7 linked regions of the Homo sapiens genome follow. The protein of the gene in region 7 purifies or fractionates together with the protein of the main gene of each other region. This does not show direct contact. Each region holds a gene or a part of one and is shown on either strand. Other genes may lie near its edges.

The links.
Region 1: the proteins of ECT2 (region 7) and KIF23 purify together in Homo sapiens (co-immunoprecipitation; 3 studies listed by BioGRID and IntAct, with this or other methods). This does not show direct contact.
Region 2: the proteins of ECT2 (region 7) and TCOF1 purify together in Homo sapiens (affinity purification with mass spectrometry, with the first as the bait; 2 studies listed by BioGRID). This does not show direct contact.
Region 3: the proteins of ECT2 (region 7) and CAPZA1 purify together in Homo sapiens (affinity purification with mass spectrometry, with the first as the bait; 2 studies listed by BioGRID). This does not show direct contact.
Region 4: the proteins of ECT2 (region 7) and COPG2 purify together in Homo sapiens (affinity purification with mass spectrometry, with the first as the bait; 2 studies listed by BioGRID). This does not show direct contact.
Region 5: the proteins of ECT2 (region 7) and LARP1 purify together in Homo sapiens (affinity purification with mass spectrometry, with the first as the bait; 2 studies listed by BioGRID). This does not show direct contact.
Region 6: the proteins of ECT2 (region 7) and ATP2A2 purify together in Homo sapiens (affinity purification with mass spectrometry, with the first as the bait; 2 studies listed by BioGRID). This does not show direct contact.

What each region holds. Positions count from the first base shown.
Region 1 is NC_000015.10:69,431,349-69,434,848, reverse strand, and holds part of KIF23 (kinesin-like protein KIF23), read right to left. Parts: intron 1-3,500.
Region 2 is NC_000005.10:150,378,197-150,381,696, reverse strand, and holds part of TCOF1 (treacle protein), read right to left. Parts: intron 2,793-3,500; coding exon 2,655-2,792; intron 2,469-2,654; coding exon 2,289-2,468; intron 2,166-2,288; coding exon 1,965-2,165; intron 1-1,964.
Region 3 is NC_000001.11:112,650,832-112,654,331, forward strand, and holds part of CAPZA1 (F-actin-capping protein subunit alpha-1), read left to right. Parts: intron 1-1,756; exon of another isoform or gene 1,757-1,857; intron 1,858-2,766; coding exon 2,767-2,830; intron 2,831-3,500. UniProt on the Homo sapiens protein: F-actin-capping proteins bind in a Ca(2+)-independent manner to the fast growing ends of actin filaments (barbed end) thereby blocking the exchange of subunits at these ends.
Region 4 is NC_000007.14:130,662,249-130,665,748, reverse strand, and holds part of COPG2 (coatomer subunit gamma-2), read left to right. Parts: intron 1-2,710; coding exon 2,711-2,782; intron 2,783-3,500. UniProt on the Homo sapiens protein: The coatomer is a cytosolic protein complex that binds to dilysine motifs and reversibly associates with Golgi non-clathrin-coated vesicles, which further mediate biosynthetic protein transport from the ER, via the Golgi up to the trans Golgi network.
Region 5 is NC_000005.10:154,803,877-154,807,376, forward strand, and holds part of LARP1 (la-related protein 1), read left to right. Parts: intron 1-324; coding exon 325-431; intron 432-2,004; coding exon 2,005-2,156; intron 2,157-3,500. UniProt on the Homo sapiens protein: RNA-binding protein that regulates the translation of specific target mRNA species downstream of the mTORC1 complex, in function of growth signals and nutrient availability.
Region 6 is NC_000012.12:110,287,747-110,291,246, forward strand, and holds part of ATP2A2 (sarcoplasmic/endoplasmic reticulum calcium ATPase 2), read left to right. Parts: intron 1-3,500.
Region 7 is NC_000003.12:172,760,726-172,764,225, forward strand, and holds part of ECT2 (protein ECT2), read left to right. Parts: intron 1-884; coding exon 885-958; intron 959-1,690; coding exon 1,691-1,821; intron 1,822-1,965; coding exon 1,966-2,081; intron 2,082-2,184; coding exon 2,185-2,247; intron 2,248-3,500. UniProt on the Homo sapiens protein: Guanine nucleotide exchange factor (GEF) that catalyzes the exchange of GDP for GTP. Promotes guanine nucleotide exchange on the Rho family members of small GTPases, like RHOA, RHOC, RAC1 and CDC42.

The sequences.
Region 1 (3,500 bases), on a different chromosome or scaffold from region 7:
GCCCTGTGCCTGGACATTACTGCCAGGGACGTGCAGGATGAGTGCAAGAAGAAGGGGCTGCCTTGGACTCTGGCCAAGAGCTTTATGGCCTCCTGCCCAGTCAGCGCGTTCGTGCCCAAGGAGAAGATCCCTGATCCTCCCAATCTGAGGCTCTGGCTCAAGGTCAACGGCGAACTCAAGACAGGAGGGTGAGACATCCTCCATGACTTTTTCCATCCCCTACATCATCAACTATGTTTCTAAGATCATGACCTTGGAAGAAGGAGATGTTATCTTGACCAGGACAACAAAGGGAGTTGAACCAGTTAAAGAAAACTATGAGATCCAGGCTGGCATACACGGCGTGGTCAGTATGAGATTGAAGGTGGAAAGGCCAGAATATTGAGGCATCTCTTAACAAGTTTCAGGGAGAAGGGAGAAAGACAAAAGCAAGCAACGGCTATTAAATGTCGCAATCCTTTAATAAGAAACCAATTATTTAAAAAAAAGATTAGATTGCTGTGGCTCAACTCAAAGAAGATGGATTCTTCAAGAAAACATGAACTAGAAGGGATGGACCAGAAATTTAAAAAGCCAAAGTAAAGTACTTCTGGTGCTTCGGAAAAATTTTATCAAACCAAATGTTCTAGAGTTTTCTTTCATAAAACTGGATTGGAGAAGACTTTTCAGTGGGTTATCTCTAGGATGATCAGTCGTTCAAGACTTAAAAACTGCAGGGAAAACTGAAAGTTATGTTCCAGATCAGTGTTTCCCAAATTTCCTTGGATTTGGTCATCATCAGGAAGCATTTGTAAAAATAAAAATTTCCAAACTACTGTGGCCCATCCCAGAGCCACTAAATCAATTTGATGGGATTAATCTCCAGTGAAGCTGTGTTTACAGAGTACTCCAAATGATTCTTATCAGGGAAATGTGGAAAAACACTGCTGTACATAATCAATTAATTTAAATTTTTACTTAATAAGTGAACAATTAATGAAGATTTCACCTGTTTACTTAGGGTGTCTACCCTGACCCATCGATTCTGAGTTCAGGAGATGATTTTGAAATTATTGTTTTCCAAATAAGTGTGCTGCTACCTTTTATGTGGCTAAAAAATAAAAATAATAAAATAAAATAAAAAATAAATAAATAAAATATATTCTCTAAGGCAGCAGATCCCCAAACTTTCTGGCATCAGGGACCAGTTTCATGGAAGACAATTTTTACACAGATGGGTTGAGGCTTGAGGGGTGTGGTTTGGGATGAAATCATTCCAGCTCAGATAATCAGGCATTAGATTCTCATAAGAAGCATGCAAGAGTCTGAAGCTCTTGCTGCATCTAGAGGGGCTCTCCTGTTGTTTCTAACAGTCAAGTGTCTTCAGAATCAGCTAACTCTGTCCCCTCTACATCTCAGCAAGGATTTCTTAGGTGGCATACTTGTTACTTCTGACCACTCTTATTTGGATTTCTGAGCCAAGGCAAGTCTAACAGTCTAATCAAGCTTTCAAGAATGCAGCTCTCATCTGATTAGACCCCATAAGAATGAGTTCATTTTGAAACCTTGATTGAGGTCAGCTAACTCGATTATGCTTTCACCCTTGGCCTCCTTGGAGGATCTTGGATACACCTCCCAAAATACAGAACTCATCTGTACCTCTGTAATATTCCATGATTCATGATTTACGTTCCTTGACCCAAACTCCTAATGTTCTTTCTTCTTCCACTGTGCTCTCAGGAACTCATGTTATTAACAGATTTCCCTGCATCTTCAAATCTCTCACAAAATAATCCATTGATAGCTTTCCCTAGTGGTCAGGGGTTCTTAACCTGAGGTCTATATTGTCCGGGGGAACATGATGGGGTGTCTGCATACTTAGATGGAAAATAAATTACATTATTTACTTTTTACCAAACCAACTGGAATTCACTAGTTCCTTCAATTATGAATGCAGGCCAAAAACCACAGCATTAGTAGTACCTGTAATTGGTATCAATACAAATCACAGATATTTTTATAGCATGTTACAGTTTGTTGCTCATCAAGATATTTATGTTCATCATTACACTGCATTTATTTAATCAGACCTGCTGCTGTGTCTTTAAGGTATTAATAAAGAAGCACATAATTACTGTATGACAAACTTAAGAATACTTTTAAAACACATTTCAATGCAATTGGTTTCCTCTGTAATCCTCTCTGTGTTATACCTTCAGAAATACTATACCAGGAAGGGTCCATAGGCTTCACCCTACATCCATGGCACACAGCCCTGCAACCTAACCATTTATCTCTTGCTGCAGCCCTGTAGCCTTTTGGAGTAAAAAAAAAAAAGCTACTTGTTTTCTAAAGGCTGACATTCTACAAGTATGGTAAACAGAGGGAGAGGCTAGCAACATTTTCCTAGTTCCTCCTTATTGCCTTGAAATATTCCTCCTACATGCCAGTCCCTGGTTTATTTCGGTGTCCATGAGAACAACAATCATTCTCATATGCTGTAGTCACAGGGTCCCAATGTCCCAGCTCCAGTAAATCTTTATCTCTATTCCATTACAGCTGACAGCCCAAACCCTATCCCTCAGAAGTGTACCACTTCTAAAAACCTGGAGCCTCTGCCATATGCCCCAACTACAATCTCCTTTTCTCTCTCACTCCCTAACTCTATATTAACACTAACAGTCCTTTCTAGCTTTTCCCCAAAGCATCCAAAACTTCAAGTTTTTACTTTCTTCCCAAACCAGCTCTTGTCCCATCAAAGTTAATCCTTCCTCTTGGATCTAGATTCAGATTTTCCTGCCTCTTCCAGGATCTTGCTCCGCCAATAATCACCACTTTATTATGAACACCTAGTAGGTAAGCTGCACTGGGTAGACATTGACAGACAGCACACACACAGTCCACTCTCATGAAATTCAAATGATTCAGACAAATTGCAAGAGTCCTTTGGGCCAGGGTAGAGGCAGCTCTAAAGGCCCCATTTCTCACCACTGGACTTAAACATCATCTCTTCAGCATATGAATAAACTCAAGTCTTTACTATCTTCTAATGTACATATATAATGTGTGTGTGTATTTTTTCATCATTTCATAATCCCTCAAATCCCTTTTAGCTATCACCCTTCTCTGTCCATCCCAAGCTAATAATCAAGGGCTTGCTGTTCCTCAAGCTTCTGCTCTCAGCTTGTTCCTCTCCATTCGCTATGAATTATCTTATCTCACCCAATTGCTTCAATCATTTCTTTTTTTTTTTTTTGAGACGGAGTCTCGCTCTGTCGCCCAGGCTGGAGTGCAATGGCGCGATCTCGGCTCACTGCAAGCTCTGCTTCACGGGTTCACGCCATTCTCCTGCCTCAGGCTCCCGAGTAGCTGGGACTACAGGCGCCCACCACCACGCCCAGCTAATTTTTTTGTATTTTTAGTAGAGATGGGGTTTCACCCTGTTAGCCAGGATGGTCTCGATCCCCTGACCTCGTGATCCGCCTGCCTTGGCCTCCCAAAGTGCTGGGATTACAGGCGTG
Region 2 (3,500 bases), on a different chromosome or scaffold from region 7:
GAACTCATTGAAAACTTAAAAACAAAAAAACTACACAGCCCAAAATATGGCCGGGGCCTATGTCTTAGTCTGGCATTTAGGTCCTCCATAAATCTACCAGTAACAAGCACCTGGGAGGGCCTACGGCCTGCAGGACAGCTGCCTTCAGTGACCATGTGCCTTCATGCCCAGCCCCTCTGCACACACTGAGGGGCCTTCTCCACTTTTGTGCCTGGTCATCCTTCAGGTTCAGCTCAATCATCTCCTCCTTTTCTGGCCTCTCAGAGACCTGCTCTTTCAGCTGTCAGCACCACTAGCATAGTCTGCGATAATCCGGTCACCTGTCTTGCCCCACAGACTGTGAGCTCCTTGAGGGTGGGGCCAATGTCTTTCACCCCCAGTAATTGTTGGTTTGGTGTATCAAAGGCAGAGGTTAGGGCTAGGGAGCATTCATCTCAGTGCTTGTTTTACTCATGAAGAAAACAAATCTAAGAGGTTATGGAGCTTGGCCTGGCACAGGGACTTCCAGCTTCCCTTAAGAAATGGAAGACCTGGCCACACAGAAGGTCCATCTCCACAGTCATGACTGGCTGAAGCTGATAAGAACTGCCCCTCTGGATGGGGCAAGGGCTCTCCGGTCTGCCCTACTTGCTACCACTATCTACCATCTCTCCTGACATTTATCATCTCTTTTTTTTATTTTTGTGACAGAGTCTCACTCTGTTGCCCAGACTGGAGTGCAAAGCAATGGCATGATCTTGGCTCACTGCAACCTCTGCTTCCCGGGTTCAAGCGATTCTCCTGCCTCAGCCTCCCGAGTAGCTGGGACTACAGACGCCTGCCATCACGCCTGGCTAATTTTTGTATTTTTTTAGTAGAGACAGGGTTTCACCATGTTGGCCAGGCTGGTCTCGAACTCCTGACCTCATGATCCGCCCGCCTTGGCCTCCCAAAGTGCTGGGATTACAGGCTTGAGCCACCGCACCCGGCCGACATCTATCATTCCTGCCAGGCCTGCATCAGTCATTTCCATCACACACCTGTGCCTTGGCAGTGCTGGAGTTTGTCATCCTACACTTCTGTAGGATGTAGCAAGCCCTGCTATCTTCTGCAAGCAGACAGAGGGAATTGTTCAGATTTTCTTTCTCCCCACTCTCCAGGGTCCAGGCTTTGCACTAAGCTAGACAAGCCCTGCCTGAGAAGATGCGCCTGCCTATGTGAGGCTCCGGGCCAAGGTGCAGGATGAGACTTCCTCCATCTCTCCAGGACCTCAGGGGGACCTGTGCCACACTCCAAGCTTCCCTGGGACTCTGACAGGGAGAGTCATTTTGTATAACGTTAACGTATGCACAATAACTAACATGTAGATTCTTGGTCTCATATGCCTTGGTGGGAAATACTGGCCTAGCTTATAGAGCTGGTGGAGACCTCGACCTAGATATAGACCCAGGACACTTTTAGCTACGGAAGTCTTCGTTTGGGGGGTTTTAGTAGCAGGTTTTACCTAAGGAGATGTGGATGACAGCAGACGGAGGAGGGCATGGTGGAACTGGAGCCTTAAGCCTTAACCTGGCCTTCCTTTCTTTTCCTTACCTGGCCCTAAACCCTGGTTTTTCACTTTTCTTTTTTTTCTTTTTTTTTTTTTTTGAGACAGTCTCACTCTCATCACCCAGGCTGGAGTGCAGTGGCATGATCTTGGCTTGCTGCAGCCTCCGCCTCCCAGGTTCTAGGGATTCTCCTGCCTCAGCCTCCCGAGTAGCTGGGATTACAGGCACCCGCCACCATGCCCAGCTAATTTTTATATTTTTAGTAGAGACGGGGTTTCACCATGTTGGCCAGGCTGGTCTTGAACCCCTGACCTCAAGTGATACATCTGCCTCGGCCTCCCAAAGTGCTAGGATTACAGGTGTGAGCCACCACGCCCAGCCCTATACCCCCGTTCTGAGGAGTGAGTGTTGGTGGCTCAGAGGCCTGGCAAGTCTTACCTGGGCAGAGGTCACAGCTGCCGGTGCCTCCCCATCACTGTCTGATTCCTCGCTGCTGCTCCCTGAGTCATCCTGCTTCCCTGCCTGGGCAGCCGAAGGCCCTGTCTTCCCAGGAGGTGTTGGGGCAGCCCCTTTCCTGGGGGACTCCTTGGCAGGAGCCAAGGCAGCTCTGATCTGGTGGGTCTTCCCTGAAGGCTTCACCTGGAGGGAGAAACAGGATGAGAGGAGAGAGCCTGGAGGGTGGACGTGTGAGAAGACAGGAGCTGGATGTGGCAAAGGTGTTACATCCCATGTAGGGGATGATCTCCATTCCCTCCCCCTCACCTGAGCCAGCGTCTCCGCCTCCTCCTCACTGTCTGACTCCTCCTCACTGCTCCCTGAGTCCTCCTCTGGCCCTGTCTGGGCCTGAGCTGCTGTAGCCACGGCCTTCCCCACAGATGGCACAGATGCTGGGCCCCTCGCCAAGACGGTACTGTTCTGGGGGTTTCTCACTGGTGGCTTCACCTGAATTGCAGGGGGATAATAGTATTGGAGGCAAAAGTGATTCCTTTCAGGTCCCACTCCCCACTATGGCACAACTCTGGGTGGGTGGCCTGCCCATGCACGCACCTTCTCCTGGCTGGGCTCAGTGACTGGTCCTCCTCTCTACCCCAACCCTCCACACCTCCTGTGGCTTCTGGCCCCACTTGCCTTGGATGGAGACCTCTGCTTGGCTTGAGCAGCTGCAGTGACAACTTTTCCAGGGGCTGAAATTGTCCCTTTTGCTGAAGGTGCTCTGGCGGCAGCTGGGTTGGCTTTGGCCTGGGTTTTCTTTACTGAGGTTTTCACCTGAGTGGAGAAAAGGGAATTAAGGAGGGAGAAGGTGAGATTGAGTAAAGCAGCTAGCCAAGAATACAGACTCTGGAGCTGGAGCCCGAGTCTGGATTCTGGCTCCTCCATGCAATAGGCGTGTGAACCTGAGCTCATCACTTGATCTCACTGGGCCTCAGTTCAGTCCTCTATCAAATGGAGATAATAATAAGGCCCACCTACGGGTTATGATGAAGACTAAATAGGAGATTCAGAGTTTAACATGATGTCTGGAACATAATAAACACTCAAACTCATTGTGCGTGCCTTCCTTAGCATTAGCTAAGCACAAGACTACCTAAAACAGATGTTTTCCAGGCTCCCTTTCAGCTAGGTGGCAATGTCATTAAATTCTGGCTCATAGGATGTAAGTTGAGTGCCATAAAAGGTCAGAAACATGTCTCTTCCTCCTCCAGGCTAGATGGAATGCTGAGGTCAGAGCTGGAGCTCAAGCAGCCACGGCAGAACAAGATACTTGTTGTTTAAGGTTTTCTTCAGCTTAATCTAGCCTTAACCGATATCCAGAGAACCCCCAAAAGGCCTGTCAGGGATTCCAACAAATAGAAGGAGAACAAAAAAAAAGGGAAATTCCCAGAGTGAGATCCTTAACAGGAGTGACAGCAAGCCTAATGTGAAACAGAATGAGGACTCTGGCAGCATCTCAAGGCCCCTGCCTCACTCAGGGAT
Region 3 (3,500 bases), on a different chromosome or scaffold from region 7:
GGCTAAGATTAAGAGAAGTTGGTATGTAGTTCAGATACTTCATTTTCTTTAATTGCACTGACACTAAAGCTTTGTATTTATAACTATTCTGGTTCTTATAGACTATAGGTTCTTGGGGAACCCTCTTGTTAAGAGAATTTTCCTGGACCCAAATATTTGATTTTCCATAGAGAAGAAAAATTCAGTTTTATTTCTGTATTAAAGCATTTCAGTCCCTTGGCCATAGTCCTCATAGTAACTGCTCAATTAATGTTTTCATAATCATTGTCATAATTATTGCCTTCAGTCTGTATAAAATGAAGGGCTTGAAGTAGCTAAGATTTACCATCTTTCCTGGATTTCCACCAGTTTCTGGCCACCAGAACCATCCCCAGATAATTCCAGCGCTTCTGGAATAAATAGGGTGTTGTAAGTTATGTTAAAGAGTGAATTTCATTCTGACAGAGATAGGAAGTAAGATTGTTTTGAGTAGAGAATAACATAATGAGACTTATATTTTAGAATAATCACTAGCTCCTGTGTAGAGGGGCAAAAGCTGAGGTAAGATGAGTAATTCCAAGACAATGAGAATAGTTCAGGGATAGATGCTACTGGTTGGACTAGAGTGGTAGCAGTGGGGGTGGTGGGAAGAAGTCAGATTCTGAATATGTACTTAAGTAGAGCCTACAAGATTTACTGATGGACTGGATGTGAAGTGTGAGAAAAAGAGAAGAATCAAAGATCACCCCAAGTTTTTGGCTTAGGCAGCTGGTAAAATGGAGATGCTGTTTACTTGAGATGGAATTAAAGGTAAGGACATTTTGGTGTTGGTGTTGGTAATCTATAGTCTTAGGACATATACTAGAATAAAATATTTACTTCCTACTCGTTTTTTTTTAAACTAACATTTATTCTACTTTTTATGAATAAATTGTATCCTTTCTGAAGAGCTAATGTGTTTGGGATTAATTTTGCTACATGGGGATGTGGTGTTTTAAGGAGTAAAACACAGTAATAACTTTTGGCTGGGTGTGGTGGCTCACACCTGTAATCCCAGCACTTTGGGAGGCCAAAGTGGGTGGATCACCTGAGGTCAGGAGTTCGAGACCAGCCTGGCCAACATGGTGAGACTCCCCCCGATCTCTAAAGAAAATACAGAAATTAGCTGGGTGTGGTGGTGCGCATCTGTAATCCCAGTTACTTGGGAGGCTGAGGCAGGAGAATCACTTGAATCCGGAAGGCAGAGGTTGCGGTAAGCCAAGATCGTACCACAGCACTCTAGCCTGGGCAACAGAGTGAGACTGCATCACCCCCACCCCCCAAAAAAATAAATACACAAAGTATACAGTAACAACTTTTAACAAAATAAGATTGAAAATTAGCTTTAGAGGCTGGGCACGGTGGTTCATGCCTGTAATCCCAGCACTTTGGGAGGCTGAGGTGGGCGGATCACCTGAGGTTGGAAGTTCGAGACTAGCCTGACCAACATAGAGAAACCCAGTCTCTACTAAATATACAGAAATTAGCTGGGCATGGTGGCACATGGTAATCCCAGCTACTCTGGAGGCTGAGGCAGGAGAATCGCTTGAACCCGGGAAGTGGAGGTTGTGGTGAGCCAAGATCACACCATTGCACTCCAGCCTGGGCAACAAGAGCTAAACTCCATCTCAAAAAAAAAAAAAAAAAGCTTTAAATATTTGAAGAAGTTTAAATGTTTGTTACTTTGCTTTATCTTGAGAAGCCTAGTTTTAACCACTGCTTAAAACTAGTGGTCTCCATCCTTTTGTAGTTCATAAGTGTGATGGTTGAGTTTTCACATGCATGTGTGAGATGTGCCTCCCTCAAACCTTGTTATGTTGGCACATTACCTGTCTGACATGGGGAAAAAAAAAAACTAGCAGTCTATTTTAATAGGTTAAAATTGGGAATTCTGTGAGAAGACTGATACTTTTTAAGAATATAAGTGTAGCTCTTATTTCCATCTTTCTTTTATCTTGTCTTTTGCTTTAGCTTTGTAAAATGTATTAGAGAGCCATTAAAAATGCAGAATTTCAAAAATCAAGCTTTGGACAAATAGTAATATTAGGCATGTACTTTGATTATTTATGCATTCCTCTTTTAAAAATAACTACTTTGTGCCTGAGGCTCTACTTTTATACTTGACTCATGCTCAACTCTCACTTCACCTTCTTCGCATGTCAGATGCCTTCTGACATTTAATTATAGTTTCTCGTGACTTTGAGAGCCAAGAAAAAAGATCATTTCCAAAATAGTGTATCAATGGAGGATTCTTTTGAATTACTGAAAGCTTCTGCCCAAATGATTAAAATTGTTGGCAGTTCACAATAATTAGATTGCTTCAAACTTTGGAATTAGCCGAGTGTGGTGGTGTGCACCTGTAGTCCCAGCTACTCAGGAAACAGATGGGAAGATCTCTTGAGCCCAGGAGTTTGAGGCCAGCCTGGCAACGTAGTGAGACTCTATCTCAAAACAAACCAACTTTGGAATTGTCTAAGCAGAAGGTCTTTTGGAGCTCAGGAGCAGAGAGGAAAAGGTAATTTCAGAGTTTAAGGAGCTTCCAAGATCTCCGTAGAGAGGAGTCCCTTCAGAAAGCTGGAAGGCATTATGTTAACACTGGATGTCTGGGGAGAAGGGAAAAGTACAGGGTACTATTTTCACATTTCCTTTCACTATTCTGTGAACCACCTTTTGTGTTTATTTACACATAATTCTTTTCTCTCTCCCTCTTTTTTTTTTTTTTTTTAAAAAACTTTTAAAAAAAAACAGTGCATTTGCCCAGTATAACATGGATCAGTTCACGCCTGTGAAGATAGAAGGATATGAAGATCAGGTAATAATTGCCTTTTAGACAGGCTATGCCTGGCAGATAGTAGAGATCCTATTAATGGAAACCAAAGCAGATGTCTGAACCAGGTGCTGAATAAATTTGTCTTAGTTTTTATAGTTTTTGTGTGTACTGTACGTGTTAGGATATTCTTCTCTTTCTCATAACACTAGCAGTTTCTTTGACAAGAAAGGAGAGCAGCCTCTTAACAAGAACAGTGAAAATGGAAGTATTTAAGTTTTACAGGTTTTCCAGCTGTCTTTAATTCTCCTTGATAAGAGTAACAACAGACATTATATTTAATGGAAAAACAGAGGCGTTCCTCCTGAAATTTAGACTACTTATTTATTACTTTAGGATTTTGGTGGTTGGGAAATGGGATGAGAAAACAGTTCACTTTGTGTATTTTTTCATTTTTGAACCATGTGAATGTATTACCTATTTTAAATGCTAAGTGTAATGGCCCTAAAGTTTCATAATGACTCTGGAAAAATATGTGAAAAAAATACAAAAGTGTACATAAAAGTTATTACAGCTATGTATAAAGTACATATATAGTTATGTATAAGTATATATTAGAAACCAAGAAATGAATATTATTAGTATGGGGGATATTTTGTAGTTTAAAGTTGACTTATTCATAAATACAATATTCTTAATAATACGGGACTTGGTT
Region 4 (3,500 bases), on a different chromosome or scaffold from region 7:
TGGGGAATTGGTTCCAGGACCTCCATTGGATACTAAAGTCCATAGATGCTCAAGTCCCTCATACAAATGGTGTAGTATTTGCATATAACCTACACATATCCTCCCATATATAAGTTGTCTCTGTGATTATAATACTTAGACTATAATCTCTAGATTACAATACCTGGTGCAATGTTAGTGCTGTGTAAATAGTTGTTGTGCTGTATTGTTTAGGGAATAATGACAAAAAACCATCTGTACGTGTTCAGTACAAACATAGTTTTTTTTTTCCTTGAATATTTTCAATCTGAGCCTGGTTGAATCCACAGATTCAGAACTCATGGTTATGGAGGGCTGACTATATATGTCTATACACATACAGACGGACACATAAAACATACATATATACCATATACCTCAGGTGGTTTACATATGGTGCTAAGATAACCATGGTTTCCAATTTGAATTCTAAGAGAATATATTATCTTTACTTTGTTTTGTGACTGAAGACCTCACTCAGAGATTTAATAAAGTTTTCTTGTTTACAAATGAAGACTAAGCAACAAGCACATAGATTTTTTTTATTTTTTGAGATGGAGTCTCGCTCTGTTACCAGGCTGGAGTGCAGTGGCGCAATCTCGGCTCACTACAACCTCCACCTCCCTGGTTCAAGCAATTCTCCTACTTTAGCCTCCTGAGTAGCTGGGATTACAGGCATGCACCACCACGCCTGGCTAATTTTTATATTTTTAGTAGAGACGGGGTTTCACCATATTGGCCAGGTGGGTCTCAAACTCCTGACCTTAGGTGATCCGCCCACCTCAGCTTCCCAAAGTCCTGGGATTACAGGTGTGAGCTACTGTGCCTGATCATCAAACACATAGTTTTAAATAAAATATATCTGTTCACAAACAACATAATCCCTCTGTGTCAGCATATGAGAAACATTTAAAGCATAGTCAATTGGGTTTAACTTTTCATAGCACACATTGTGTCTAAGTTGGCCAAATCCATTGTATAAACAAAAGTTTTGAATAGTCAAAGTTGATTGAGAGTAACATGTATTTTTATGTTGGTCATTACCTCTTCAATGAGGCAACTCATGTTGAAACATTTAATTATCTTGATAAGGAAATTACCAAGCACAGCATAAACACAATTAACTATATAAACAGGTTTGGGAACATAAATTTTATCTCTTTGCCTAGAACTTGGTAGAGCTTTATAGAAAGATACTTTTGAATTTCTATGAGAGTTGACATATCCATGTGTTTTCTGAGTTTCAAGTAAAAAAGTAGGATGTAAGGTTTTCCTGTATAACTAAAAAGCACACAGACTTCTGGGTATTCAGTAAATAGTTGTGAAAGAAAGATAAATCTCATGCTGATGAGCAGGCTGGATACACTGATTTAAGTAAGTATAAACTTATTGTACTTTGTCTTTTATCCTAAACTGTCAGTATTTTTCACCAAAATTTATTCTTATACCTATGGCAAATAGATTGAAGACTAGTTATATTTTATGTGGAATCTGAAGCTCTGAAAAGTGATTGAGTGTAACGTATTATATAAGATTGCTTTTAGTGAAGACATTAAATATTGAAATGGTAATATTTGAGGTAATCTATGATTTGAGATGTTTTGAAATACGTTATCTAACACTTTTTCACTGCTCAGAAAATGTAGTTCCCAGATCAGCATTTGCATCACTTGTTAGAAATGCCAAATCTCAGGCCAGGCGCAGTGGCTCAAGCCTGTAATCCCAGCACTTTGGGAGGCCGAGGCAGGTGGATCACGAGGTCAGGAGTTCAAGACCAGCCTGGCCAACATGGTGAAACCCCGTCTCTACTAAAGATAACAAAAAATTAGTTGGGCGTGGTGGTGCACACCTGTAATCACAGCTACTTGGGAGGCTGAGGCAGGAGAATCACTTGAACCCAGGAGGTGGAGGTTGCAGTGAGCCAAGATTGCGCCATTGCACTCCAACCTGAGCAACAGGGTGAGACTCCGTCTCAAAAAAAAAAAAAAAAAAAAAAAAAAGAAAAGAAATGCAAAATCTCAGGCTTTACCCCAGAGCCACTGAATCAGAATCTGCATTTTGGCAAGATCCCAGGATGAATTGTCATGCTCATTAAACTGTTTGAAGCTCTGATCCAAAGCATGTTTTTAGGGGCTTGAACCAATATTGAGCTACATAGCAGCCCCTTAAGCCTAGTTTTTTAATATGATGAATCTGGTTCCTGCCCTTTTGGTTGGTCCCCTTCTTGCCATTTTGCTGAGATTCTGAATAGATAGTTCCTTATATTTTAATATTTATTATGCTCCCATGACATGTTAGGCATTGTGCTGGGCATTATAGATATGATCTCTGCTCTTAGGCAGTGTAATAATAATGTCCTATTGTGAGTGCTGTAATTTTCTCCCTCCTTGTAAACTACAATACTTCAGGAAAATTTCAGATACTTTCTACTAAAAGTTTAGAGATCACTATGCCAGAACTTTTAAGCATGGTATGCGATACTGAATTATTTTAAATAAGGGGGGATAAATGGCTATGTGGGTTTATGCATTGAAAGCCAGAAAAATTGCAGAGGCAGAATGTTTACAAAGAGATTCTTTTTTCTTGAGTTCTAAAGGATTTTTGCAGAAATAGAAAATCCTGTGTGTGTATATGTACATATATATGAATATACACTTTTTAAAATTTAAAAATTGTTTTAAATTTTACTTAGGGTGAACACTTTGGAACAACGGAAGCTACAGAAGCCTTCTTTGCAATGACGCGATTGTTTCAATCTAATGATGTAAGTCTTTTTAAATTTTTTTTACGATGAAAAACCTCCTTTTATTTATTTTCCCCAGGGAACTAAGAGTGTTCTAAATTAGGGAGCATTGCTTGAAATGTTTTAAATTATTTAACTGCTTATAAAACTTATAAATATTCATTATAAGACGTGAAAATGGAAGAATTAAAGTATGCAGTGTAAAACTTTTCCCTGCAGATCTACCGTGAAGTCATAAAGACTGTTAATACCTAGCTTCTGGCATGACACTGTGAAGGTGGACTGATAAAGAAGTCAGTGCACATAGCTACCACATTTGTCAGTTCTTAGTCAAGTTTCTGGTGGGCCTGGGATTGCTGTTAGTCAGCAGTGCTGGCAGTTGAGAAGAAGAGCTGGATGTGGAGTGGGGAAGGGGAATAAGGAATAGAATAAGGAAAAAGAAAAATGAGTACAAACTAAACCTGCCTCTCATTACCTTAGGCCACCCTGACCTTCAGAACATACAGCTGCTGCTTTTTGTCTGTCTTCTAAGTGTTGTGTACATTTTTCTTTTGCCTAGCTCTAAGGCAGAACCATACAGGGAAGGTAATTCTGGGATATGTATTTTCCAGCTTTCCATTAACATAAATTGGCCAAATCCTGCAGTTTTTTGGTATGTATTGCATATCATCACATGTCACATTTTGTGTCAACCCCCAGAACCTCTTGAGATTTGAGTCTTGTTATGGATCTAAATAAT
Region 5 (3,500 bases), on a different chromosome or scaffold from region 7:
GGTGGGCTTACCTAGGATTAGGTAGCCACATCTGCAAAATATACTGGGTGTGGGAGTGGTAACCCCATGTTGAAAGGCCTAAGGAGGATTGACCAGGTATGAGTCCTTGGGCAAATCACTGCATTCCCAAACCTTGATTTCTTCACCTGTTTGAAATAGGCATACCAGTTCCTAGCTCACCACTGTGAACTTTATACGAGAATGAATATGAAAATGCTGTTGTAAAATGTGAGAGATCATGCCCATCTTAGTCCTACAAGTGCTTGATGCTCCTCAGAGTTGTAGGAGTACAAACAGTAACAAACCCTGGGCTAACCTTTGCAGATGCCTCGAAAAAGAAAGACAAGACACAGTTCAAACCCACCCTTGGAGAGCCATGTGGGCTGGGTGATGGATTCCCGTGAGCACAGGCCCCGTACTGCTTCCATCAGGTACCTGGGGCAGTGGGGGAAGAGTGATCAGGCTGCCTATGGGATGGGTGGGCGAGCCATGAAATTGACTGGACCAAGAAGATTGGTCTGAAAATTAAAGGGACCCTCATCTAAGAGGTTTTCAAAAAACCAGTGGTGTGGAAAGCTCAGCCCAGGACCTGGGAATGACGGGTAGGCTTTTTTCCTAAAGAAGTGGTGTGGCAGTCACGTGAGACCAGATTTTCATACATGCAGAGAGAAAATCTCTGAATTGGTTTCCAAGCCTGGCTATCTACTTTCTGTCTGAGGAAGAATAGCCAGGTAGTTGAATAAACAGATTTCTGGCAGTCTCTCTGAGCCTACTATGTCTTGGGAGGCTACTTGAAAAGTTTTAAAAATTAAAAAAATACATATTTATTGGCCCCAACCTGTATCTGCTGACCCTGCTTCTTGGGGTAGGGCCCACACTCTTTTTTATTTATTTCAGTAAGATGGCCCCAGTGTGTGTTTCCTGTTTCCCAAAGCAAGCTTTGAGAGCCACCTACCTATGACCAATGCTCTCTACTCCCTGCAGAGATGGCACAGACTGCAAATAGGCATGCTTTTGAAGAAAATATACAATTGATCTTTGAACAACGAAGGGCGTGGGGTGCCCAGCTGCACACAGTTGAAAATCCGTGTATAACTTTTGACTCTCCAAAAGCCTACTGTTAACCAGAAGCCTTACCAATAACATATAGTCAATTAGCACATGTTTTGCATATTATATGTATTACATACTGTATTCTTACAATAAGCTAAATAAAAAATATTACTAAGAAAATCACAAAGAAGGGAACAACAAACACTGGGGCCTACTTGGTGGGGAGAGGGAGGAGAGTGAGGTACAGTTTACCTACTTAACAAACCTGTACACATACCTCTGAACCTAAAATAAAAGTTAAAATCATAAGAGAAAATATTTACTGTTCAGTAAGTGGAAGTAGAATCATCATAAAGGTCTTCATCGTCGTGGTCTTCATGTTTAGCAGGCTGAGAAGGAGGGGTTGGTCTTGCTCTCTCGAGTGGCAAAGGGGAATCATCATAAAGGTCCTCATCCTCATGGTCTTCACATTGAGCAGGCTGAGAAGGAGGGGTTGGTCTTGCTGTCTCAAGAGTGGCAAAGGTGGAAGAAATCTGCGTATAAGTGGACCCACGCGTGGATCCATGCATTTCAAACCCATGTTGTTCAAGGGTTCACTGTAGATGGATTGACCCATGATGGCTCATTAAAAGGTTAAATGCTTAAAGTTAATAAATGGTTAAAAGCTCAAGTTTTATCATTGGACACGTTTCTGCCATTAAATAGTCTTATGACCCTGGATGAGTCTCCTAATCTCTGTAAGCCTCAGTATCCTCTGTAAAACTCTCTGAGAGTTGATGCAGAGTTAATCAGACCCATGGATATAAGTTAAAGGTCCGTAACTGGGCCTCCTTGTTTGATACCCTGTGAGAGGATGGATCTTGGCTGACAGAACGGATCAGAGGGACCCCTCCTGACATGGTGGGGCTGCTGTGGGGAACCTGGTGACAGTATTTTTTGTGGTTTCTGTAGCTCCAGCCCCTCAGAAGGGACGCCTACAGTTGGCAGCTATGGCTGTACCCCTCAGTCATTGCCCAAGTTCCAGCATCCTTCCCATGAACTGCTCAAGGAAAATGGCTTCACACAACACGTCTACCATAAGTATCGTAGGCGCTGCCTTAATGGTAAGAAGTGTGGGGGGCAGGAGATGAGCCTCTGGGCCCGTTATTTAGACCCAGAGTATAAGAGTTGGGGGATACGGGGATAGGTGACTCTTTTCTCTGACTTCAGAGCAAAAAAAAGACATGACATTATAGCAAGAAAGACTGAAGTTAGACTCGGGCCAGGTAGTTTTAAACTGTAGGAAGCTAGGGGGATATGGCACTCACAACGTTCGTGTTCTTTGATCTTCCTCTATTGATTATTAAAGCTGTCAATTAAGTATTTCCATATCTCTGGCAAGATTACTGACTCAGCCATTGTCAGGTCTAGTCCACTGTCCATCACAAAAGGGTATGTAAGAGGTGACATATGCTCTCTAGAACAAAGGTTGCCAAACTGGCCTGTGAGTCAAATCCAGCCAGTATTCTGTTTTCGTATGGCTTTGGAGCTAAGGACAGTTTTTACATTTTTAAGGGGTTGTAAGAAAAAAAGATTTGTGACAGAGACTATATGTCTTCTGTAAAGCCTGAAATATTTGTTCTCTGTCCCTTTACAAAAGTAGTTTGCTGATCCCCTCTCTAGATGATAGTGTAAGGAACGAGCCTGTCTAGATGCTCTTGTCTGTCCCTGCTCTTTTAGTATTCTGATAGGTTGGCTGTAAAGACGCGCAAAACCAATCTAGTCACCTGTAGTTATTAACTCATTCATCCTCTTTCATTCAACAAAACGTGGTTGCTAAATTCTTGATTCATCCACTTCACTTCTCTCTTTCTTACTCTATGTGTAATAACAGCTTTATTGGGATATAATCTACATATGATGGAACATACCTAAAGAATACAATGTAATAGCTCTAAGTGTACTCATATAGTTGTGTGCCCATCACCAGAATCAATTTTAGAACATTTTCATTACCCCCAAAATGCTATGCCCCTTACCAGTCATACTCATTATACATGCAAACTACTCCCCACCCCCAGAATCCTCCCAGCCCTATGAAACTACTAACCTACTTTCTGCCTCTAAGGATTTTGCCTATTCTGGACATTTCACATAAATTATACTGTATGTGGTCCTTTGTTACTGGCCTCTTCCCCTTAGTATATTTGGTATACTAACAAATACACAGCAAGGTTCATGTCATAGCATGCATCAGTACTTTATTCTTTTTATTGCCAAATCATATTCCATCGTATGGATGTATCACATTTTGTGTATCCATTCATCAGTTGATTGGCATTTGGGTTGTTTCTACTTTTTGTCTATTGTGAATGATGCTACTGGGCATATTCACATACAGGTTTCCTGTAGACGTAGTTTCTCCTTTATTTTGGTTAGAAGAGTAGTATTGCTGGGTCATGGGGTAA
Region 6 (3,500 bases), on a different chromosome or scaffold from region 7:
TGGGATTACAGGCATGCACCACCACGCCCGGGTAATTTTTTGTATTTTTAGTAGAGACGGGGTTTCTCCATGTTGACCAGGCTGGTCTCCAGCTCCTGGCCTTAGGTGATCCGCCTGCCTCAGCTTCCCAAAGTGCTGGGATTACAGACATGAGCCACCTCACCCAGCCCAGATAATCCTTTTACACACTGTTTAAAATTTTCAATTTTCCTGGAGATAGGGTCTCCTGTCGCCCAGCGGGTAAATGCAGTGGTGCGATTATAGCTCACTGCAGCCTCAGACACCTGGGCTGAAGCCTGATTCTTGAGCCTCCCAAGTAGCTGGGACTATAGGTGTGAGCCATCATGCTTTGCCCTTTTTTTTTTTTTTTTTTTTTTTTGAGGCAGAGTCTCACTCTGTCACCTAGGCTGGAATGTAGTAGTGGCACGATCATAGCTCATTATAACCTCAAACTCCTGGTTTCAAGCAATCTTCCCGAGTAGTCAGGACTACAGGCATGCCCTGCCATGCCCAACTAATTAAAAAAAAATTTTTTTTTATACACATAGGGTCTCACTATGTTACTCAAGCTAGTCTCCAATTCCTGGCCTTAAGAGATTTTCCCAAAGCATTAGGATTATAGGCATGAGCCACCTCACCCAGCTGAAACAGATAATTCTTTTTTTTTTTTTCCTTGAGATGGAGTTTTGCTCTTGTCAGCCAGGCTGGAGTGCAATGGCGCGATCTCGGCTCGCTGTAACCTCTGCCTCCCGGGGTCAAGCGATTCTCCTGTCTCAGCTTCCCCAGTAGCTGGGATTACAGGCGTCCACCACCACACTCGGCTAATTTTTTGTATTTTAGTAGAGATGGGTTTTCGCCATGTTGGTCAGGCTGGTCTTGAACTCCTGACCTCAGGTGATCTGCCCACCTCAGCCTCCCAAAGTGCTGTGATTACAGGTGTGAGCCACTGCTCCTGGCTTGAAACAGATAATTCTTTATATTCAACCTGTTGTCAAAATTTTTAGAAACATTTTCCCAGTTCCTTGTATAAGTATACTTTGTATAACTTCTGGCAAACCATAATTATGAACTCACATTACTATAGTACTATAATACTGCAGTAAGGGATCTTGCGTTTCAGTAATGTCACTCATCCAGTTTTCCTCCCCTTTCTCTTACCCCATCTCCCTCCCAGTCTCATGGTTTCTGTTGTCAATCCTCTTTCTCCTTACACAAGGCAAGAGGTTTTCTTACCAATAGATCAGAACTGTGAAGGACTGCCCGACATGATCTGATATGGTTGTTCTTCATTTTGGGCTGTAGTATTTTAAAGTAGAGGTTTGCTCTGATGGTCCCATCACTGCTTGCCATTGTCTTTCCCTTTGCTCTAGCTATCAGGGGATGTTGCTTTAAGTTTGTTCCCCAGGCTTTACTGCCAAGAGGGAAATTCATACCCACTTTAACAAGGTGTGAAGCTTATCTTACAGTTGCTAATGCCTCACTGACCTTTTGGAAAGGTCATAGTTACTCTTCAAGTTGAGCGATTTTTCTCCCCCAAGAGCTAATTAAAGTTTCTTGTTTCTGATATGCTCTCCTTGGCAAATGTTTGAAAGTCTAGTATCAGAGCAGCTGTGATCCTGCATCTATCAAAATTTATAACTTCCTAGAGAAGTTTTCATTCTGGCATTATTCCTGGCCTTAACACTAGAATGCCCTGTTGAAAGCATACAGTAACATTTATTATACTCATTCTGGTTGTCTGTTTGCCCTAGCTCACTGGACGTTGGTGGTGATTGGCATCTGTCAGGACTTGGTGGTCCTGGTGCCTCCTGTTTTTATTTTTCTTTTTGTCCTGCTCAAACAGATATTTCTTATTCATGCCGTCTTCTAATGAGTCATTTGGATTCATTATTGCCATAAATCATTTGGAGGAGTGTTTTCATGATTTACTAAGTAGATCTTTTAAAGAAGATTTTATTATGAAATATGCAAACATTTTAAGCAATTTTTTAATTAAAAAAAATTCGACCTCCAAGATTAAATCATTAGATGTGGTTAACACTGTTTCTGGATTGGTAAGTTTCCACAAAAAGAGGTTTTTAAATTTTTAACCACATAGACCACTCTTTACCATATTCATTATTCTTAGTATTCATTGTGGTGAGTTCTCTCTTTTTACCACGTTTATAGTTGTTGGATTGGGAAGTGCAGTGTGACTCTTACTTTGTAGTTTTTAAATCTTAACAAGTTTATAGTTGTATGAGCTAAAAGTTTAAACCTCTGCCCCATTTTCTTGGGGCAGTGTTCTGTGACCAGTTACATTTTTGGACTTAGGTTATCTCTGAAGTGCTGTGTTGCTGTATAAATGTCATATGGAGGATAACCTACAAAATACACTTCGGATCTCCCAACAGCTTTGCGGTTCTGAAACAGCCTTCAGTAGTACCACTGAAAAGAAACGGGGAATTAACTGGTTTTTTGTTTCTTTTATAGAGATGAGGGTCTCGCTATGTTGCCCAGGCTGGTCTCAAGCTCCTGGCATGAAATGATCCTCCTGCCTTGGCCTCCCAAAGTGCCGGGATTATAGGCATGAGCCACTGTTCCCGGCCTAGAATTAAACAGTTTATATATGCTCTAAAATTTAAGTCAGTGATCAAGTTGTTTATACTGTGGATTTATGTCACATGGATATTACTTGATATGAATAATAACTAAATGAACATGACTGTTAGATGATCACCTTTTACTTTAATCAAGAATTGAAGTTTTATTTTTTCTAAATAGATACATATAAAATGAATGGAATTTATTCCCTCTCCCCAGATTTTATTTGGATTCTAAAATGGAATTATTACATCAAAAGATAAGGTATTTTTAAGAAGTATAGTTGTTTTTTTGAGACTGAGTCTTGCTCTAACGCCCAGGCTGGTGTGCAGTGGTGCGATCTCAGCTCACTGCAACCTTTGCCTCCCAGGTTCAAGCGATTCTCCTGCCTCAGCTTCCCAACTAGCTAGGACTGCAGGTGTGCGCCACCACACCTGGCTAATTTTTTGTGTTTCTAGTAGAGGTGGTTTCACCTTGTTGGCCAGGGTGGTCTCGAATTCCTGACCTCAGGCGATCTACCTGTCTCGGCCTCCCAAAGTGCTGGGATTACAGACTTGAACCACCACACCCAGCCATGAAGTATAGTTTTTTGTTTGTTTTTTGAGTTTTGCTTTTGTTGCCCAGGCTGGAGTGCAATGGTGCGATCTTGGCTCACCGCAACCTCTGCCTCCCGGGTTCAAGCGATTCTCCTGCCTCAGCCTCCTGAGTAGCTGGGATTACAGGCATGCACCACCACACACTGCTAATTTTGTAATTTTAGTAGAGATAGGGTTTCTTCGTGTTGGTCAGGCTGGTCTCGAGCTCCAGACCTCAGGTGATCCCCCCGCCTTGGCCTCCCAAAGTGCTGGAATTACAGGCGTGAGCCATCGCACCCGGCTTTTTTTTTTGTTTTGAGACCGAGTCTTGCTCTGTTGCCC
Region 7 (3,500 bases):
TTTTTTTTTTTTTGAGACTGAGTCTCTCTCTGTCACCCAGGCTGGAGTGCAGTGGTGCCATCTCGGCTCACTGCAAGCTCCGCCTCCTGGGTTCACGCCATTCTCCTGCCTCAGCCTCCCGAGTAGCTGGGACTACAGGTGCGCACCACCATGCCCGGCTAATTTTTGTAGTTTTCATAGAGACAGGGTTTCACCATATTGGCCAGGGTGGTCTCAAACTCCCGACCTCAGGTGATCTGCCTGCCTCGGACTCCCAAAGTGGTGGGATTACAGGCATGAGCCACTGTGCCTGGCTGTCTAAGTGCCCTTCATAAGAACAGAGCTCTGCTCTTATAAAGTGGTTCTAAGATTTAACTTGTGAATATTATAATAGGAGAAAATACTCTCACTAGGATTGAATCTTAGTTTAAGATTATAGTTGAATGTCTTAGCAAGAGTTTATCATTTTTTCTTAGTCTCCCTTAGTGTATTTGTGTAGCAAATGGTAATTTTAGTGTACTCTTCAATTTACCCTAAATATTTCAACTCATATCTAAGGTTTTAGTGACTTAGTCGGATGTCTTCTTCTGTAGTGCCATCTTGAGGGTCATACTTTCAAGGAAGTAAACGTGAAGAAAGGAGAAATAGAAATTTAATAAAGATGAACTTCAGAGATATATTTATTTAAAATAAGGAAACAGTTCGGACACCATGGAACTTGTTTTGAAGTTATTTTACCCTAACTTGTATGATTGGAAGATAGTTTGTCTGTTAATTTTTAAATTATTTTGTTACAAAGCAGATAGTGATCTAAAACTGCAAAAAATTAAGTATGTTAACTGTTTAGAACTTCCTTGAATGCAGTTATTTAAGGAGAAAATTCACTGTAATGTTTATATTTTTAGGTTGCTGTGAGTCTAGGTACTCCAATTATGAAGCCAGAATGGATTTATAAAGCTTGGGAAAGGCGGAATGAACAGTAAGTGTTTAGAAACTCAGTAGTTCATTATGTAAATTAAACATTCTGGTTTAAAGATAAATCCATGTGCTGAAAAAAGTAATTTCATAGATATAAAAACTGAATTCAGTCTGAGTAGCTTGAGGAATAAAATCTAGGGAGAACAAGTTATAAAAAATTATAAAAAATTAAAAATTGAAAGATATCTTTGATATCTTTGGATTTTACCTTGTGAAGTAATTTTGGCTATTATAAACATTCTGAAATTATTAGATAATAGCTAAATAATTCTGTGTATTTGGATTTTGTTACATATTTTTAAAATTTTGTGTTATCTGGTTACATTTTAATTGGTGCTTGAAATTTATTGCCTTGTTTTGCTTAGTTTTCCAAGCGCATGATTTCTTGCTGTGGCACTTCATGAATTAAGATTTCATGAAAGTTATCATTATTTTAGATTTCATGAAAGCCTTGGAACACAGTACATATAAATCTTCAAATAATAGAGAAAAAATTTGAATCTCTTGTAAAGCTTATCTGTGATCACATTTTGTCAGAAGTTACTTTTGGGATGACAGGACACATCATTTTTTTAAACTGAAGTTTTTGTGAGCATTTCAGGACCAAATATTAAATAGTTTCAATAGATAGATTATGCCAAGACCTTGAAAATTACTGTAGGTTTGTAAATTGATATACCTAACACTTGAATTTAAGTTAAACTGGTTTTGGAAGAGTGTATTTTGTTTTTAGGGATTTCTATGCAGCAGTTGATGACTTTAGAAATGAATTTAAAGTTCCTCCATTTCAAGATTGTATTTTAAGTTTCCTGGGATTTTCAGATGAAGAGAAAACCAATATGGAAGAAATGACTGAAATGCAAGGTAAAATTTAGCATAATGTAAAAGTTATATCTATTTTAGTCCCTAGGCCTGCTTAATCACTTCCTGGTCAATATACCTCTTAAAAAATTTGAGTTTGGAAATAAGTAGCTTGGCTTATTTATGCTTATGTGCATTCCTTTTTAGGAGGTAAATATTTACCGCTTGGAGATGAAAGATGCACTCACCTTGTAGTTGAAGAGAATATAGTAAAAGATCTTCCCTTTGAACCTTCAAAGAAACTTTATGTTGTCAAGCAAGAGGCAAGTAATTCTAGAATGAGGTTGGTTTTTAAAAACACTATTAATAGCTTCTCTGATAAAATAAATGTAAACTGTTTATTAAAATGTTTTTTCTCTCACCTAGTGGTTCTGGGGAAGCATTCAAATGGATGCCCGAGCTGGAGAAACTATGTATTTATATGAAAAGGTATGCTTTTAACCCCTTACTTATTTGTTCTGTGAGCTTGATTGTTTGAAAATAACACTTTTCTGTCCAGAAGGTTTAGAAGCATGTTTAGGAATTTCAGAATGATTAAAACAATTGGGATATCAAGTTATCTTAGTCTATGTAGATTTAAGTGGAACTATTCAATGTAATGTGTATTATTTTAACCTAATATATGTTGTTCTGTGCGAATTCTTGGTGATAACATTACGAACAAGAACATCTCTATCTTCAGAAACTTAGACTTTTAATGGAAAGATAGATTTGTACGTAGTTAACGATGGGGAATGATGTGTGCCACAACTGAGTAATGTATTTTAGGTAGCCTCGCTCTGAGAGACTCAGGAGGGAATAAAAAGGTGAAATAAATGTTGACCCAACTTACTAGGCCAACTAGGTAAGGACATTCGTTAGAACCCCAATTGGGAGAGGGTATGAAAGCTTTGAGAGTACATTAAAATAACAAGTAGTTTAGTATGGCTTTACAGTGTGGGAAGGAAGGCCAACAGATAAAACTTAATGGATAGATAGAATCAAGAAGTTTTTAATACATTAATGAGCTTGGATATTATCCTATAACTATTGGGAGCCATTGAAGAAGAGTAAGGGGAGAGACGTCATTAAAAAGATGAGTTTGATAGTAGAATATCGTTAAGGAAAATCTAGTGTTTATGGTGAATCTTGGTGAAGAGTAGTATCACTCACCAAAATGACAAAGTTATGGAAGTAGTCTTTAAGGGAAGATTTACTTCAGTTTAGGATTTAATAACTTTGTGTGGAATATTGAAGATGAGTTGTTTCTGTAAAATCTATATAGTACCATATTGTGTTCTCTTCAGAGTCTTTGAAATGTGAAGTTCTTAAAGTTTAAAAAGTGTGCTTTAGATTTAGGGAGAGAACTCTTAAAAATCAAGTGTTACTCAGCACATATTGGAAAGCATTGTGTCCAGGCACTGTGCTAGGGATACAGCGAACAGACTGTGAATGGCCCCTGCCTTCTTGGAGTTGATGAGCTAATGAAGGAGCAGGTAGTAAACAAGTTTACAGATGAAAATATAATAGTGATAGTGGCTATGAAGAAAAATGAGGTGCTTGAGGTTAGACAATTACAGTCGTCTCTTGACTATTATGTTTTATGAAACTTTTGAATTGCCTGGTAGAGTGTAGGGTTATAAAATTATTGTGCAAAATCCAGATTCTGTCAGACTTGTAAATATATTTTTCTCTTGTTCCTG